Linked DNA regions of Homo sapiens. The protein of the gene in region 1 purifies or fractionates together with the protein of each later gene. This does not show direct contact. Each region holds a gene or a part of one and is shown on either strand. Other genes may lie near its edges.

Region 1 (3,987 bases):
CCACATATTCATAATCTTGTCCATAGGCTTTCACTAAAGAAATACTATATCCTATGTGTTCTATATTAAAGTGTCACCACTGAAGGAAACTGGTAAACTCATTTTTACCTCTATAAAGTTTTTTAAATCCCTATTTTCAAAACATTTGTTTTGCAAAATAATAGAGAAATATCATGCAAATAAATTCCTCATGGAAATAAAGGAAGGGCTGGGCTCACCTGAATACTTGGCAGGTTTTCTTTACATTCCTGAAAATCTACGGATGTTAGCAAAGAATCATTTTTCTCACAGCTCTCCTGGCTGATGAGCATGTCTACATAGTTGGGCTGGGGGAAGATCAGGTGACTCTTCCGAGAGTCCGCGGTGAGGGAGACCTCATGGGAATAGGTCTGCAGGAAAGCCTGCACCCCGTCCATGCCCACAAAGTGCGAGGTGGGCACGTTCGCCAAGCCACCTTCTGAAGCCTGCAGCAGGCGTGACTTGTGCCAGCGCCGCAGCCTGAGCGCCAGCAGTACGAGGACGAAGGCTAGGAAGACGCAGGAGACTGTGGCCACCGCCACCACCAGGTACAACGTGAGGTCATAGTTGTAAGGACCGTCGGAGGGCTCAAGGCTGCCCAGGTCGGCCAAGACTTCGGGGATGCTGTCAGCCACAGCCACGGTGAGTGTGACGGTGGCTGACAGAGGAGGCTGACCGTGGTCCTGGACGGCCACCACGAGGCTCTGCTTGAGGGCATCTCTGTCCAGCAGGGCCCGAGCCGTGCGCACCTCGCCCGTGTACAGCCCAACCGCAAAGAGTCCTGGCTCGCTGGCCTTAAGCAGGAGGTATGACAGCCAGGCGTTCTGGCCTGAATCTTTGTCCACCGCCACCACCTTGGTCACCAGGTAGCCGGGCTCTGCGGAGCGGGGTGCCAGCTCCATGCCAGTAGAACCATCTGTGGGGAGGGCCGGGTACAGGATCTCGGGCGGGTTGTCATTCTGGTCCAGCACGAACAGGCTCAGTGACATGTTGCTGCTGAGAGGCGGGTCCCCGCTGTCATGTGCAGTCACTCTTAGTTGTAGTTCTCTCAACTGCTCATAATCAAAGGATTGCAGCGCGTACAGGACTCCAGTGTCAGAGTTTATGGAGACATAGGAGGACACTGGAGCCCCCTGGATGGTGTCTTCGGCCAAGGAATAAGTGATCTGGGCATTATCCTCACTGTCGTGGTCCTGTGCAGTCACTAAGAAAATGGAGGCCCCTCTGGGGTTGTTCTCAGCGATGTAGACTGAGTAGGATGAGTGGGGGAAGGTGGGTGGGTTATCGTTGGTGTCTGCCACCTGCATGAATATGTGAGTTTCCCTGGACAAGGGAGGAGTTCCACCATCTGTGGCTTTCAGTGTGATGTTATACAAAGAGAGTGTTTCCCGGTCCAAGTTTTTGGTTGTGACCAATCTATAATAATTATCTATTGATTTTTCTAATTTAAAAGGTAGGTTTTCTGGAATGGTGCAGGTCACCTCACCATTCTTTCCAGAATCTCTGTCTTGTAGGTAGAAAAGAGCAATGACTGTCCCAAGAGGTGTGTCTTCAGGGATTGAGCTACTTAAAGACGTCATAGTCACTTCTGGAGCATTATCATTTACATCTAAAACTGTGATCAGTACTTTTGCCTTTGTCAGACTACCAGGACCATCTTGAGCCTGAACCTCCATTTCATAGAAGGCAGTTTCTTCATAATCTAATCCTTCTAAAGTTGATATTTCTCCTGTAAGCGAGTTCAGATGAAACATCTTTGGAAGTTTAGGAGTTATTTTCCGAAAAGAATATGTCACTTCCCCATTGACTCCCTCGTCCAGGTCGATAGCATGTACCGTGAGCAGTCTTGTACCCACTGGCACATTCTCGGGGACAGTTACTTGGTACTGAGGCAGAGAGAAGACAGGCGTGTGGTCATTCACATCCACCACTGTCACCTGGATGTGGGCGGTGCTGGATCGGGGCGGGTCGCCGCCATCAGAGGCTGTGAGGACCAGGTGGTGAACCCGCTCTTCCTCCCGGTCCAGCACCCGCTCCAGCACCAGTTCCGGGTACTTAGTTTCATCGTCTCCACTTTGCACAGCCAGGGAGAAGTGGCGATTGGGGCTGAGCTGGTAACTCTGGAGGGAGTTCGTGCCCACATCTGGATCCCCAGCCTCGCTTAACGGAAACCGAACCCCAGGAGCTGTATTCTCCATTATTTTTACATTTATTTCTTCCGTCAAGAATCTTGGAACGTTGTCATTAATATCTATTATTTCCACGTCTATAGGGTAAAGATTCATTTTATCTTCCATCAGGATGTTAAAGTTTACCAGACACCGCGCACTCTGAGCGCAGATCTCTTCCCGGTCTATCCTGCCCGCAGTGACCAAGCTGCCGCTGCGCTGGTTCAGGGCGAAAAGCTGCGTCCTACCTCTGGAGATGATGCGGACTCCGCGCTCCGCCAGCTCCCGGGGCTCCAGCCCCAGGTCCTTGGCGATGTCTCCCACAAAGGACCCTTTGTCCGTCTCCTCCGACACGGAGTAGAGAATACGTCCTGCCCAGGCTTCCCAGGGGGTCCCCAGGAGGATGGAGAGCAGGAAGAATCCTCTGTAGTCCCCGCCCCTCGGCTGAGCCGCCATAGTCGTCCTGCTTCTCTTGCTTAGGCGCCGATCTCGGGAAGTGCTTCAGAATGCGGGTGTATCCGGGTGGACCCCTCTGTCTTAGGAAGGGGAGCTCAGAATCCAGCAGGATAGAGGCTTGAGTTTAGTGCAGCCTGGAAGAGGGCTTATCGCAATCTGTCGTTTCTCTGTGCTGTAAAACTCGGTGGTTTCTGTGGGATCTCTCGCACCATTTTTCCCTGGTTGGTGAACAGCGGCGCTGTGAGTCCTTACTAAGTTACTGCACCACATTGATGCACACAATACACTGATTTCATAGAAAATTGTTTCATCTTTCAAAATTTCCCTGTTAGATTTCTTTGCTCTAGATATCCCTGATAATTAAAAATCCATTTTAAGACACTGAATTAATGCAACAGTGTTCATGGACCGGTGTTTGATAATCTTAGATAATTTTTAAAAAACTGCTTTGCCTTGCAACTTTCAAGTGACTCTTTTGGGCACTGACTCACACGTTATTGCACATGGGAAAATCAGTTATTGAAGGCAAAAAGGTAAATTTTATTTAAATACATATGAAAGATTTTACTTAGAAAATATTTACATCAGTGTATATAAATTTTAATTAATTCAGTATTAATTGAACACATATGTTCTAGACACCATGATGCAAGATTCAGAAAGTCAAAATTGTTGTAAAATATATAGACCTATTTTAATAAATTTTTGATTGTATAGAACCTTAGAGACGGTCTAACACCTTCATTTTAACCGTTTAAAAAATGAGAGGGGGGGCCAGGTGCTGTTGCTCACGCCTGTAATCCCACACTTTGTGAGGCCGAGGCGGGCGGATCACCTGAGGTCGGGAGCTTGAGACCAGCCTGACCAACATGGAGAAACCCCGTCTCTACTAAAAATACAAAATTATCCGGGCGTGGTGGCGCGCGCCTGTAATCCCAGCTACTCAGGAGGCTGAGGCAGGAAAATCGCTTGAACCCGGGAGGTGGAGGTTGTGGTGAGCCGAGATCACACCATTGCACTCCAGCCTGGACAACAAGAGCAAAACTCTGCCAAAAAAAAAAAAAAAAAAAAAAGAAGAAGAAAGAAAGAAAGAAAGAAAGAGGGAATTGCCTTGCCTTGTTCCTGATTATTGATTATATAGTAGTAGAACAATGTCGGAATCCAAATATTCTCACTCCCAGTCTTGTGAGAAAAAAAGAAAGAAATCGTTGTTTGTCTTGGCTGCAGCAATCAGCTATAGAAGCAACCCATTTTCTACAGAAGGCAGAAATCTGCAGAGATCCTACTGGGCTGTGAATTCATAAGAAACTGGATAATGGATTGGCTGATTCTTTTCATTATGCAA
Region 2 (4,132 bases), on another chromosome or scaffold:
ATCCCGTTGCACCAGGAATTCTTTTGTTGTGCTGCAGGTCAAAGCCTTCGATAGCCCCTGGATTCAACAGCATTTCTTTTCTTCCACTTTTTAAAAACAGAGACAAGCCAATTCTCTGGAAGGAGATACAGACCACTTGGGTAACAATGGTACATTTCACATTGCGCCACCGGGAAAGACCTCGCGGGATTGGGGTGGATTTAAGGATTTGGATGCTTTTGTCCGTTCTTTCTCTTTCTTATTTTTTAAACTCAAATATTTCTCCGTGAAATTTTCGGGGAGTGAATCCTAGGGAGTAGTGGGAGTGGGGGTGGAGGTGATTGAAGGAAGATATTGTATTGTAGAGGGACTACCAGATGACAGTTCAGGAACGCTTTCAGAGGAATTTTTTTAAGGCTCAGCTGACAGCACTACAGTCCTGCCTGCTGGGAAGGAATGCAGCTTGGTGGGGAAACTGGGGAGAGCCAAGTGTGCAGCAAAGGAGTCTAATCAACAGGACCCGTGTGCTGTGGATGCTCCCCATCTGCCCCCACCAGCACACACCAATCCTGTCACCAACTCCTCGCCGGGAGGGGAGAAGGCAGGGACTTTTTGGTTGCTAAAGAACTAAACTGAACCTCAATTGCCCAAGGACTCAAAGTTAGTAGGTAGAGATGGTTTTCCCTTAATGGACCCTTTACAAAAGCAAATTTTAAAGCAAAGCACAGCTTACATGTCAATTTCTTACTGCTCTAAAACAGGTAAATCACCTAACAATGTGTTCCTTAAAAGTCAGTCAAAGGCAATTTCCATGATATTTTGCATTTAAAATGACCGCACAGGAGTCCACTGGCAGACAGTAGCTAATTTTAGAAACATGCCACCATACACTAAGTAAGCAGGAGGGCAGAATTTTCTAACATTCTACCCTTAATATTCCAGACTCACCCTATTGCTCCCATAGGTCTTAGCCAAGAAGTAAACCAATACCGATAGCCTAAGCTCAGAATCAGAGCAATTCCCTCTCCCTCCCCAGCTGCCGGCACCCGCACCCTCCCCCCCATCCCCCGCCCAGCACTTTGGGTACCCAATGTGCAGAGGCGGTGACTATTTATCGGGTGTTATCGGAACCCATGATGTGATGGAATCGATGGGTAACCCGGAGGCTGCCCTGAGCTTCCAGATGACGGTAAATGTTGTCTCGGCAATGAAGTCTCTGTTATTTCTTGAACTAAAACCCCTTACGTTCTGGACCTGGGCTGTGTCCTAAAGGCTATCTCACCTTTTTCCTTTTCTTTAGCTCAGGATAGCGCGTCTAAAGGACAGGGAGGGCTCCAAAAGTTAGGGAATATTGAGCCATGGGGCCCCAGTTTTTTCCGTGTCCTGCTGGGAGCGCCCAGAGCCATTTGTTTGTCCAGAGGGAGGACAAGAAGCCCTTTCTCCCTGCTGTGCCCCCTTCCCACTTCCTCCTCCCCACTGCTGGATCTTACAGCTCACTAATTTTTTCAGATCTAAGATTAAGTATTCCAATATGGAAGCAAAACTATCTTCCCTAGAACAAATAATTAAAACGCTGCATCATTCATTTTCTGAAGAGCTTTGAGCCGTCTATAGAGCCTTTTCTAATCTGCTGTCGTCAGGCGAAACGCACAATGGTCTGTTTAGAAACGGAAAATTATTAAAAGCTCAAGCCTTTTTCCTTCTACCTCTTACAACACCAGCGAGCATTCCACTGGGGGAGGGGTCCTTCGCTCCGCCACCTGGCCTATTTGTTGGAGTTACTTACGATGTCTTCACCCAGAAAAGAGGTCCGAGGGTATGTTAGTCTCCGGTACCCCTCCTTCCACCAACGTCCTTACACCTAACTGATCCAATTCAAAACTGCAACAAACCCCTAGCACCTGTGAGCGTACAGAATACACCGCGGCCAAACTCGATGTGCTCTACAATGCACATCCTACATACGAGAAATACTGGTTTCAATTAGGCGAAGTAGGAAAGGATGGCGGCGAGTACCTATGGTGCAGAGCGCTCAGGATCTCCGAGGTTTGCTGCGAGGGGCTACCCAGCAGGAGGGGCAAACTCTCTGCGAAGCTGAATTGTATCCATCATACTGTAGCCTTGTAGCTTCTCCTCTTCTGGCCACCAACTTTCCGAAAGGCTACCGAATCACGCTTGTAATCCGTTTAAATGTTTCCACCTTTGAGACTTGCAGGGAAATGGTCGCTGCATACCAATGGGAGAGCGGGGCGCGCACCTAGCGCGGCGATGCCAGCGACAGGGAGCTCACGACCACAGCTCCCTATGCCCTCGATGGTTGGTAGGCAGGCAGGCAGAGTGAGTGTCCCAGGACTAGGTTCCTTTGATTTAAAATCTCGGTGCTCTGGATCAGTGGAGAGCTTCGTTGTTCCCGAGAGCCTGAGCTCAGTCTCTGGATTTCTCTCTTTCTCTCTTCCTCAAAGGTTGTCACTCACAGCGCAATCCCTGCCCGAGGCCTCCTTCCATCCGAGAAGATGGAATTAGCCCTTGCTTTTCCAGGGTGTCTTTGCTCTTTGCCCTTTAGGTGGGTGGGAGTGGGGGTTGGTGGCGTGTAGATGAGAGAAGAAAAGGGTGGGGAGAGGCGGAAAGGAGGCAGGAAGGGGGCGACTAGATCTCAGATCCCAGCATTGGTCAGACGGCGAAGGTGGGGGGAAAGAAGGAGAGGGGGAGAGAAGATACAAATACACAGTATGGCTGTGCACACCAAATTCCACTTGGATTTGGGAGATCTCAGGCAAAGCACGAAGGTGAAGCGATACCGTTGGCAGAGAGTGAGTCCTCTGACCGCTCACCATTCAAGCACCCTCACTTCTCGAGCGGGAGAAGGTGCGGGGGAGGGGGGTGGGAGGGGGAGGGGACTGCTGAACGTTTCAGGCCAAGGAGACGCTCGCGGCGGCGGCGGCGGCGGCATCTTTTAAGACTGACCTGCTTTAAAAGTGCCACTTTAATGGCCTAGGAAATAACTAAAATCGGATTACACGTTACTTACCAACGTCTCCTCCTAAACTGGAGCGCCAGGTCGTGTATAAGGAGTCAATATAGGAAACGCAGGGCTGGAACCTGAATGCAAATCCATCAGCCGCCCCCAAATCGCGCACCAAGGGAGCGGCGCTCGGGAGCCCCCAGATCAGCCCATCGCCGGAGCTCCGCCAGCGCGTCCCCCCCGCACCCCCGGCCCCTCCTCCGCGCCAACTGTGTAAATCAGCCGCCGCAGTCCTCTCGCCGCGCATCGCAGGCAAAATCCCGGCTTAGGAAGCAAGGAAGCAAGTGATCTCTCTCTCTCTCTCTCTCTCTGTCTCTCTCTCTCTCTCTCTCTCTCTCTCTCCTCTCTCTGTCTCTCTCTCTCTCGCTCTCTCTCTCGCTCTCGCTCTCGCTCTCTCTCTCTCGCTTTCGCTGTCCGCCTTTCCCTCTCCCCCATTATCGGTCACAACCTGGCAGCTCTTCAAGAGACACCCTGTGAAATTGAGTGTCGGGAAGTCAGCATTCTGTACCCGTGGATTGATTTGTAACTTTTATTTGCAAATGAGAGAGATGCCTGTTTGGAAAATTACAGCCCAAAAGGTGGAGGGTGATCAAATTAAGAACATCTGAGCTGTATTGGTGGGCGGTATCGCTAAACGCCTCCGGGGAGCGGTTTCCAAGTGATTTGCAGTAATCCCCCACCTTCATGATACATGGGTGACGATTTGAAAGTACACATATTTCCTCATCTGTTTACATTTGCCGGGGGCGGGGGGCATAAAACTGTAGGGCACAGGGAGTTGGGAGGGGGGCATTTGCCTGAGAGATGCTGGATACCATTTCGCGATAAATTAGATACGGACACTGGAACAATTAATACGTGTAATAACACGTATGTGAAAGTATTATTACAACATTACAGAGGCGACCATTACCCCCACTGCAGTCATACTAATGCAGTCATTCGTTTAATGCTCCATTCAATCTGCAGTGTAAACCAACGCAATTCTTTTTAATAGATCCCTTTCATCAGAGACTGTGTTGGAAAGAGGGCAGTCTTCCACTAACTCCCAAAGTGAATAGAAGGTAGCCTGGGGAATCATCTCTGTATCTCTTGCCATTTCTTCCTGAAGAGAATGCAATACATTGTCCA

Evidence for each region. Proteins that work in one complex are often made in the same cells at the same time.
Region 2: the proteins of PCDHGA7 (region 1) and SLITRK3 purify together in Homo sapiens (affinity purification with mass spectrometry; one large-scale study listed by BioGRID and IntAct). This does not show direct contact.

What each region holds. Positions count from the first base shown.
Region 1 is NC_000005.10:141,381,555-141,385,541, reverse strand, and holds the start of PCDHGA7 (protocadherin gamma-A7 isoform 1 precursor), read right to left. Parts: upstream 2,801-3,987; 5' UTR 2,643-2,800; coding exon 219-2,642; coding exon of another isoform or gene 189-218; exon of another isoform or gene 1-188. UniProt on the Homo sapiens protein: Potential calcium-dependent cell-adhesion protein. May be involved in the establishment and maintenance of specific neuronal connections in the brain.
Region 2 is NC_000003.12:165,193,585-165,197,716, forward strand, and holds the start of SLITRK3 (SLIT and NTRK-like protein 3 precursor), read right to left. Parts: upstream 2,801-4,132; 5' UTR 1,996-2,800; intron 1-1,995. UniProt on the Homo sapiens protein: Suppresses neurite outgrowth.